Homo sapiens: one gene and its partner. The protein of the gene in region 1 purifies or fractionates together with the protein of each later gene. This does not show direct contact. Each region holds a gene or a part of one and is shown in the gene's direction. Other genes may lie near its edges.

The links. Proteins that work in one complex are often made in the same cells at the same time.
Region 2: the proteins of GFM1 (region 1) and MAPK13 purify together in Homo sapiens (co-immunoprecipitation; one large-scale study listed by IntAct). This does not show direct contact.

Annotation. Positions count from the first base shown.
Region 1 is NC_000003.12:158,653,156-158,658,417, forward strand, and holds part of GFM1 (elongation factor G, mitochondrial), read left to right. Parts: intron 1-154; coding exon 155-312; intron 313-1,391; coding exon 1,392-1,476; intron 1,477-5,262. UniProt on the Homo sapiens protein: Mitochondrial GTPase that catalyzes the GTP-dependent ribosomal translocation step during translation elongation.
Region 2 is NC_000006.12:36,137,013-36,141,392, forward strand, and holds part of MAPK13 (mitogen-activated protein kinase 13), read left to right. Parts: intron 1-1,352; coding exon 1,353-1,432; intron 1,433-1,689; coding exon 1,690-1,768; intron 1,769-1,866; coding exon 1,867-2,043; intron 2,044-2,281; coding exon 2,282-2,361; 3' UTR 2,362-4,380. UniProt on the Homo sapiens protein: Serine/threonine kinase which acts as an essential component of the MAP kinase signal transduction pathway.

The DNA of each region.
Region 1 (5,262 bases):
CCTTAAGTTCATTGGAGACCTGATTTTAGTCTCTATTAGAGTCAGCACTCCAAAGAGTAGAGTATCAGTTCATTTTATTCATTTGTTTGTAGTTGACTTGAAGCACAACATGTAATTTTAACATTAACTACCATTAAATTGTTTTCTTTTGTAGCTAGCAATTCGAAGAGCTACTCTGAAAAGATCATTTACTCCTGTATTTTTGGGAAGCGCCTTGAAGAACAAAGGAGTTCAGCCTCTTTTAGATGCTGTTTTAGAATACCTCCCAAATCCATCTGAAGTCCAGAACTATGCTATTCTCAATAAAGAGGAGTAAGTCTTGAAAATTGAATCTTAGTTTATGCAGAAATACTTTCGTATTTATGCACTGTGAAGGAATTTAAGGATAGTTCTTTTAATTATGTCTGTGATTTTTTTTCATAATTTACAATCATGGTTTTTATTTGGGTAACAATTTTGACGTATAGAAAAATATTTATTATACTAGTTCCTATATCATATTCTGTTTTGAGTTGGAAGTATGATTTGTTTTACTCTCTCTCAAGGTTTACATCATTAGAAAATTTTCTCATTTGGGACTAGCTGTTTTCAGACATACTGTTAAAAAAAAAAAAGTTTTAAGAAACAAACTTCTGCCAGGCGCAGTGGCTCACGCTTGTAATTCCAGCACTTTGGGAGGCCAAGGCGGGCGGATCACCTGAGGTTGGGAGTTTGAGACCAGCCTGACCAACATGGAGAAACCCCGTCTCTACTAAAAATACGGAAATTAGCCGGGTGTGGTGGTGTGCACCTATAATCCCAGCTACCCAGGAGGCTGAGGCAGGAGAATCACTGGAACCTGGCGGGGCAGAGGCTGCAGTGAGCTGAGATTGCACCACTGCACTCCAGCCTGCCTGGGTGACAGAATAAGATTCCAAAAAAAAAAGAAACAAACTGCAAAAGAAACTCATTGGTTATGTTTTCTTTTCTTTCCCTATGAGACCATTTCTGTGTTTTTTAGTGTACTTTTGTCCTATCACTATGTAGTAACTAAGCTAAGCTCTAAAGACCTTTTTTTTTTTTTTTTTTTTTTTTGTTGAGACAAAGTCTTGCTCGGTTTCTAGGCTGGAGTGCAGTGGTGCAGTAATAGCTCACCACAGCCTCGAACTCCTGAGCTCAAGTGATCCTCTCACTTCTGTTTCCCAAAGTGTGGGCATTATAGGCATGAGCCACTATGCCCAGCTGAGAACTTATTTCTATTGATCTCTTTCAGTGAAATTTTACTTATGTGTGACAGCAGTAATATCCCACACACGTGCTTTTTCTCAGATAATACTTCCTGATGAAATAAATTGATATAAAAGAAATATCATATATTACATCTCATAGATTTATATTTCTTTTATTTTAAGTGACTCAAAAGAGAAAACCAAAATCCTAATGAACTCCAGTAGAGACAATTCCCACCCATTTGTAGGCCTGGCTTTTAAACTGGAGGTAAGTTGCTTTCTAATGTATTTAACTGCTATCTGTAGAATGTTTTTACTTCTAGGCTTTATTCCTATTACAGAATGACTCTGACTTTTATGAAAGATTTGGAAAATAGGAAAGTAGAAAGAGCAGGTAGAGAATTTCCAAAGCTCTGACATGATAGTTCTTTTGTTATTAGGTGCATTTCTTTCTAGTCTCTTCTCTTTGCCTGAAGAGTGTAAATTTTTACCTAAATCATACTACCTGTATAGTTTTGTCCTGCTCTTTTTATTTAATGTCACAGTAGATAATGGTCCATGTTTCTATAAATAGTTTAAGCATTTTAAATAGTAGCATAACAGTGCATCAAGTAGATACACCAAAATTTGCTTAAAATTTCCTAATTGTTAGATGTTTATATTGTTTCCAGGTTTCTACTGTTATAAATAACATTGGGTCCATTTCTAGAAATATGTCCTAAGGAACTAATGAAGGGTAGCGAATTAATGTTAGCTTCAGCTCACCTTATAAAACCAAAATCTCGCAAACAATTGAAAATGCCCAGCCAGTCGCAGTGGTTCACACCTGTAATCCCAGCACTTTGGGAGGCTGAGGCGGGCAGATCAGAAGGTCAGGAGTGGGAGGCCAAGGCGGGCGGATCACAAGGTCAGGAGTTCGAGACCAGCCTAGCCAACATGGTGAAACCCTGTCTATACTAAAAGTACAAAAATTAGCTGAGTATGGTGGCGGACACCTGTAATCCCAGCTACTCAGGACGCTGAGGCAGGAGAATTGCTTGAACCTGGGAGGTGGAGGTTGCAGTGAGCCGAGATCGCACCACTGCACTCCAGCCTGGGCGACAGAGCAAGACTTCATCTCGGAAAAAAAAAAAAAGAAAATGCCCAGTAATTACAATTTGATAAATAAACTGAGGTACATTCTTATAGTACAACATTATTCAGACTTTAAAAATTATGTTGAAATGCCTATTTTTGACATGAAAAGATGTTTATGATTTAAAAAGAAACAAACTTACTTATTTTAGAATATTTTAAAGAAAAGTTATGAAGATAGTCCAGAGAATTCCTGTATATCCTGCACCCAGTTTCCTCTATTGTTAATACACACTGTCACAACTAATGGGCCAATACTGATATATTATTATTAACTAAAATCCTTACTTCATTTGAATTTCTTTAGTTTTTGTCTAGGTCCTTTTTCCGTCTCACTAGACAGAAGGACCACAGAAGGCCCATCCAGAGGACCACGTTATATTTGATTGTCATGTCTCCTTATGATCTCCTAGGCTGTAATAGTTTCTTAGACTTTCCTTGTTTCTCACGAGATTGATATTTTTGAGAAGTATTGGTCAGCTCTTTTGTAGAGTGTCCCTCAATTTGGGTTTATTATTTGATGCTTTTCACATGATTAGATTGGAGTCATGTGTTTTTAGGAGGACTGCCATCGAGGTGAAGTGTTATTCTTGTCACATCATATCCAAGGTACAGACTTGCAGCATGATTTATCATTGTTTTTGTTTTTTTTTGTTTTTATTTTTATTTTTTTGAGATGAGATTTCGCTCTTGTTGCCCAGGCTGGAGTGCAATGGCACAATCTCGGCTCGCTGCAGCCTCCACCTCCCAGGTTCAAGCGAGTCTCCTGCCTCAGCCTCCCAAGTAGCTGGGATTACAGGCATGCGCCACCACGCCCAGCTAATTTTGTATTTTTAGTAGAGACATAGTTTCTCCCTGTTGGTCAGGCCGGTCTCGAACTCCTGACCTCAGGTGATCCGAGTGTCTTGGCCTCCCAAAGTGCTGGGATTACAGGCATGAGCCACCGCACCCGGCTGATTTATCATTGTTAATGCTAACCTCAATCACCACACCTGGCTGAGATAGTGTTTGACAGGTTTCTCTGCTGTAAAGTTACTGTACTCTTTTTATTCCCCTTTTCATAGTGTACTTTTTAGAAGGAAGTCACTTGGCTCAGCCAACACTTGAGGGGGGAATTATGTTCCACCCCCTTGAAGGGGGCACTATCTACATAAGTTATTTGGAATTCTTCTGAAAGGGAGATTTGTCTTTCTTCCCTGCTTATTTATCTATTTGGACAATCACTTATTTAATATCAGCGTGGACTCACGTATATGTATTTTGAACTTTGAGTTATAACTATGACTTTGAGTATGTCATTTGTTGTTCAGATTGGCTGGGTTTGGCGATTGGGAACTCTCAGTTGGCTCCTGTGTTCCTTTAACATCTTCCAATGTTTTGCCTTTTTGAATACTTCCTTACTTGCTGGCACTACAAGACGCCTCAGGCTTATCTTGTATATTCCATGCCCTAACCCTAGAATCAGCCGTTCTCCAAGGAGCACTGGTTCCTTTTTAAGTAAAATGGTATTAGAAACCAAGATTTGGGGACTGGATGGGCTTTTTGTTGAAATGCTGTTGCTTCTGTACATAATATTTTAAGTGGGGAAAAATGGTAGATAAGTTGGAAGTGTTAAGAGTGGTTATTTCTGGGATGGGATTATATTTTGGGGGCTTTTTCTTACTTTAAAAATATTTTACAGTATATTTATTACCTCCAAAATGAGGGGAAAATTTTTTTAATTAAAAAGTGGAAATAACATTACAGTAAAAGTATTTACACATAAAGCTTTTAAAAATACATATATAAGAATATTTTCTTAGGATTCCCAGAATAGTGATTATTGAGTTAAAGGCATAGAATGTTTTCATAGTTAATGGTTTATATTGCCAGATTGCGTTCATACTCTCCAAATTAATGTATTGGATTATTTCAATGAATATCATCATTGAGTATTGTTTAAAAATCATTACTGATTTAACAAATGAAGAATTCTATTGTAATCTTTTATCTTGATGAAATAAATTTTGATTTTTAAAAGCAATCAGTGCTTTAAAGTTTGTATAGTCGAATATGTCAGTCTTTCTGTTTAGTCATTCATTAATTTTTAACCTTAGCAACCTTTTATTTGTATATATTTTGTTAATATTTACTTTCGTTCCTTCTACTTCTTTATGTTTTTTTTCTTTCCCCATCATTAATTCAACTGGAATTTGTTTTAGTGGGTAGGATCTAAATGTATCTCCTCTGCCTCCAAATAGAGTATCAGTTGTCCAGTTAGTACTTTATGCACAATCCTTTCTTCCTTTTCCATTGATTTGTCATGTTTCTTTATCATCTATTGACAAATATATTTTATACTTTAGATTTTTATACTGTACTCTGTGGGGTGTTTAGTCTAATTTGTGCTGGTTCTGAATTTTCTGAGTTTCAAGCATTTTAATATGTTTTTATATCTGTCAGGGTTAGTTTTATCTTATTACCATAGTTTTTGAAAAATTTCTGTTTTTACCTATTTATTCCTCTGAATGAATTTTAAAATCACTAATCATGTTTAAAATTTCCTGTTGGGATTTCGATTGCTATTTTGTTAAGCCTATAATTAACATGGTAAGAACTGGGAACTGTTAAATATATGTTAATTGGTCACTGCTAGTATATTCAATCACTTCACAGAACTCTTTTTTTTTTTTTTTTTTTTTTTGAGACAGAGTCTCACCTATTCTGTTGCCCAGGTTGGAGTGCAGTGGTGCGATCTCGGCTCACTGCAACCTCCGCCTCCTGGGTTTAAGCAATTTTCCTGCCTCAGCTTCCCGAGTAGCTGGGATTATAGGTGTGCCACCACGTCTGGCTGATTTTTGTATTTTTAGTAGAGGTGGGGTTTTGCCATGTTGGCCAGGCTGGTCTTGAACTCCTGACCTCAGGTGATCCGCTCGCCTCT
Region 2 (4,380 bases), on another chromosome or scaffold:
TTAAATAACTGTCTTTTTTTTCTTAATGTGAGAGTGATACATACTCCCTGTAGAATAATTTGTAAATGCAGATAAGGCTGGACGCAGTGGTTCATGCCTGTAATCCCAGCACTTTGGGAGGCTGAGGTGGAAGGATCCTTTGAGCCCAGGAGTTTGAGACCAGATGTGGCAACATAGGGAGACCCCATCTCTAAAAAAGTTTTTTAAATTAGCCAGACATGGGCCTGGCGCAGTGGCTCATGTCTGTAATCCCAGCACTCTGGGAGGCTGAGGCGGGCAGATCATGAGGTCAGGAGATCGAGACCATCCTGGCTAACAAGGGGAAACCCCGTATCTACTAAAAATACAAAAAATTAGCCAGGCGTGGTGGCAGGCGCCTGTAGTCCCAGCTACTCAGGAGGCTGAGGCAGGAGAATGGCGTGAACCCAGGAGGTGGAGCTTGCAGTGAGCTGAGATCGCGCCACTGCACTCCAGCCTGGGTGACAGAGCAAGACTCTGTCTCAAAAAAAAGAAAAAGAAAAATCCCAGCTACTTGAGAGGCTGAGGTGGGAGGGTTGAGCCTGGGAGGTTGAGGCTGCAGTGAGCTATGATTGTGCCACTGTACTCCAGCCTGGGTGACAGAGGGAGACCCTAACTCAAAAAAAAAAAAAAAAAAAACAAAATGTTGGGTGGGCATGGTGGCTCACACCTATAATCCCAGCACTTTGGGAGGCCATGGCAGGCGGATCACCTGAGATTAGGAGTTCGAGACCAGCCTGGCCAACGTGGTCAAACCCCATCTCTACCAAAAAATACAAAAATTAGCCGGGTGTGGTTCACGCCTGTAATCCCAGCTACTCGGGAGGCTGAGGCAGGAAAATCGCTTGAACCCAGGAGGTGGAGGTTGCAGTGAGCCAAGACTGTGCCACTGCACTCCAGCCTGAGTGACAGAGTGAGACCCTGTCTCAAAAAAAAAAAAAAAAAAAAAATGTAGATAAGCAAAATGATGAAAAATTCTACCACTACGTGGAAAATACATTTTGGCACGGCACACATTAACTGAGTACCTGTGTGTGCAGGGCAGGCCTTTGGTGAGAAGACGAGGAAACAGAAAAGAGTCACTGGGATGAAGGCTGAGAAGTCCACATCCATTTGTTGGGTAGGGACCCCCCTCAGCCTGGCACGTTGGAAAGCTCTCCAGAGCCCTGAGCCCTGAAGAATAAGCCTCCTCCTGAGAGCAGGAGGTGGTTAGGCAGGGCTGGAGCCTGGATGATCAGTTGCCATGGTGCCCGGGTGAAGTGATGGTGGGGTCGCAGGAAGGGCAGTCTCAGACCCACCAGGAGAGCAAGGCTAAGCCTTAACCTGCCACCAAGACCTGGACCAGCTGACCCAGATCCTGAAAGTGACCGGGGTGCCTGGCACGGAGTTTGTGCAGAAGCTGAACGACAAAGCGGTGGGTGGTAAATGGGACCTAGGCTGGCCTGGGCTGTGTGCTTGCCTGACGTGGGCCCAGTGGGCTGCAGGCCTTTGTGGAAGAAGGCTCACCAGCACCTTCCCACAGCATCCTCCTACCCTGGCAGGCACTCTTGTCTTAATCTCACCGTGGACCCTGACCTGAACTTTCAGCCCTGCTCTGAGGCTTTTCTGAAATCCCTGCTCTACACGCTGAGGCCAGAGCCCTAAGGGGTTTGATGCTTTTCTGTCTTCCAGGCCAAATCCTACATCCAGTCCCTGCCACAGACCCCCAGGAAGGATTTCACTCAGCTGTTCCCACGGGCCAGCCCCCAGGGTGAGTCTCAGAGCCCGCTCCCCAGGGGCCTCTCAGCGTATCCCAGAGGGCGGGCTCTCCCAGCCCCTGGTGTGAGGCTCTTGGCTCTGCCCCTGCAGCTGCGGACCTGCTGGAGAAGATGCTGGAGCTAGACGTGGACAAGCGCCTGACGGCCGCGCAGGCCCTCACCCATCCCTTCTTTGAACCCTTCCGGGACCCTGAGGAAGAGACGGAGGCCCAGCAGCCGTTTGATGATTCCTTAGAACACGAGAAACTCACAGTGGATGAATGGAAGCGTAAGAGCTGGGGCCTCGGGCTTCCTCGCCTCCGCCTGCAGCCTCTCTTCCTTGCTTCCTCCATCTTTGTGCCTGGCCTCTGCCAGCCCTACCTGCCACCTCCTTCTTGGTGGGCATTGTCTCCTGGGTGCTTCTTTCTCCTTGAGCTGACTTCGCTCTCCATGCTGTCTCTGAAGGGGGGTGGACTTTCTCGCCACAGCACCTCTTTACGCACCTTAAACCATGCTGCCTTTCTCAGAGCACATCTACAAGGAGATTGTGAACTTCAGCCCCATTGCCCGGAAGGACTCACGGCGCCGGAGTGGCATGAAGCTGTAGGGACTCATCTTGCATGGCACCGCCGGCCAGACACTGCCCAAGGACCAGTATTTGTCACTACCAAACTCAGCCCTTCTTGGAATACAGCCTTTCAAGCAGAGGACAGAAGGGTCCTTCTCCTTATGTGGGAAATGGGCCTAGTAGATGCAGAATTCAAAGATGTCGGTTGGGAGAAACTAGCTCTGATCCTAACAGGCCACGTTAAACTGCCCATCTGGAGAATCGCCTGCAGGTGGGGCCCTTTCCTTCCCGCCAGAGTGGGGCTGAGTGGGCGCTGAGCCAGGCCGGGGGCCTATGGCAGTGATGCTGTGTTGGTTTCCTAGGGATGCTCTAACGAATTACCACAAACCTGGTGGATTGAAACAGCAGAACTTGATTCCCTTACAGTTCTGGAGGCTGGAAATCTGGGATGGAGGTGTTGGCAGGGCTGTGGTCCCTTTGAAGGCTCTGGGGAAGAATCCTTCCTTGGCTCTTTTTAGCTTGTGGCGGCAGTGGGCAGTCCGTGGCATTCCCCAGCTTATTGCTGCATCACTCCAGTCTCTGTCTCTTCTGTTCTCTCCTCTTTTAACAACAGTCATTGGATTTAGGGCCCACCCTAATCCTGTGTGATCTTATCTTGATCCTTATTAATTAAACCTGCAAATACTCTAGTTCCAAATAAAGTCACATTCTCAGGTTCCAGGTGGACATGAATTCCAGGGGGAAATGATTCAACTCACTACAGACAGCTGGGAGGGAGGGGCCCCTTCCTGGGCCCCGTGCTGAGGCCTTGTGCTCTGTGAAGGAACCCAATGTGTTTGGCTGCTAAATTAAGGGAGTTGCAGAGAGAGCTGCAGCTGGTGCGATTGCATTCAGGTTATTTTGGGTGAGTGATAAGCAATCAAGATATGAAACAACAGCAGGCTCGGAGACTGCGAGCTGCACAGGCAGAAATGGGCTCTTGCCTGGCTTGATGGCAAACCGTTCTGCTCCCTTTGGGAGATGGCACAGCTCTCCAGAGCTTTGACCTGACAGTGGCTAGAACCTCTCTGTTTTTATCTGAGAAACTTTGGCAGAACAAATTTCCATGTGCACAAGCTGTCGGGCACAGTGGGTCTCAAATTTCCTTGTGCACCAGGGGACTTGTTAAAATGCAGATTCCTGGGCCCCACCCCAGGGCTTGTGACTCAGCAGGTCTGCAGTTGAGACCTTAGAATGTGCATTTGAATGAGGACCTCTCGCCCTGACCCAAGCCTAGTGATTCTGATGGATATCAGACCATAGTTCGAGACATTTAGTGGATTTCAGTCATACTTGATTTGTTGGGAGGCCTAAATCAAAAACCTATAGGAGGAGACTGGGGGGCTTCAGATGGAGTTTCACACTCATCTTACAGGTGTTAAAACTGAGGCTCAGAAAGCTTTTTTTTGTTTGTTTGTTTGAGACAGGGTCTGGCTCTGTCACCCGGGCTGGAGTTCAGTGGCACAATTACATCTTACTGCAACCTCAGCCTCCTGGGCTCAAGCCATCCTCCCACCTCAGCCTCCTAAGTAGCTGGGACTACAGGTCTGTGCCACCCAGGTGCACCAGGACTGCAGGTGGCTAATTAAAACATTTTTTTTCTTTTTTGTATAGGCGGGGTTTCTCTATGTTGCCCAGGCTGATCTTGAACTTCTGGACTCAAGTGATCCTCCCACTTTGGCCTCCCAAAGTGCTGGGATTATAGGCATGAGCCACCCTGCAGGCCCAGACAGCATTTTTAAGGCCTTGAAACTCTTCTGTATAATACTGTAATGGTGGATACCTATTGTGCATTTGTTACCATCTGTAGGACTGGATAACACAGAGTGAACCCTCAAGTAAACTATGGACTTCAGTTAATAATAATGTATCAGTATTGGTTCATAAATTGTAACAATTGTGCCACACTAATGCAAGATGTTACTCATCAAGAAAACTGAGGAGAGAGAAGGGGAGGAAGTAGGTGGGAACCTCTATACTTTCTACCAACCTAAAACTGCTCTAAAAAATAAACCACAG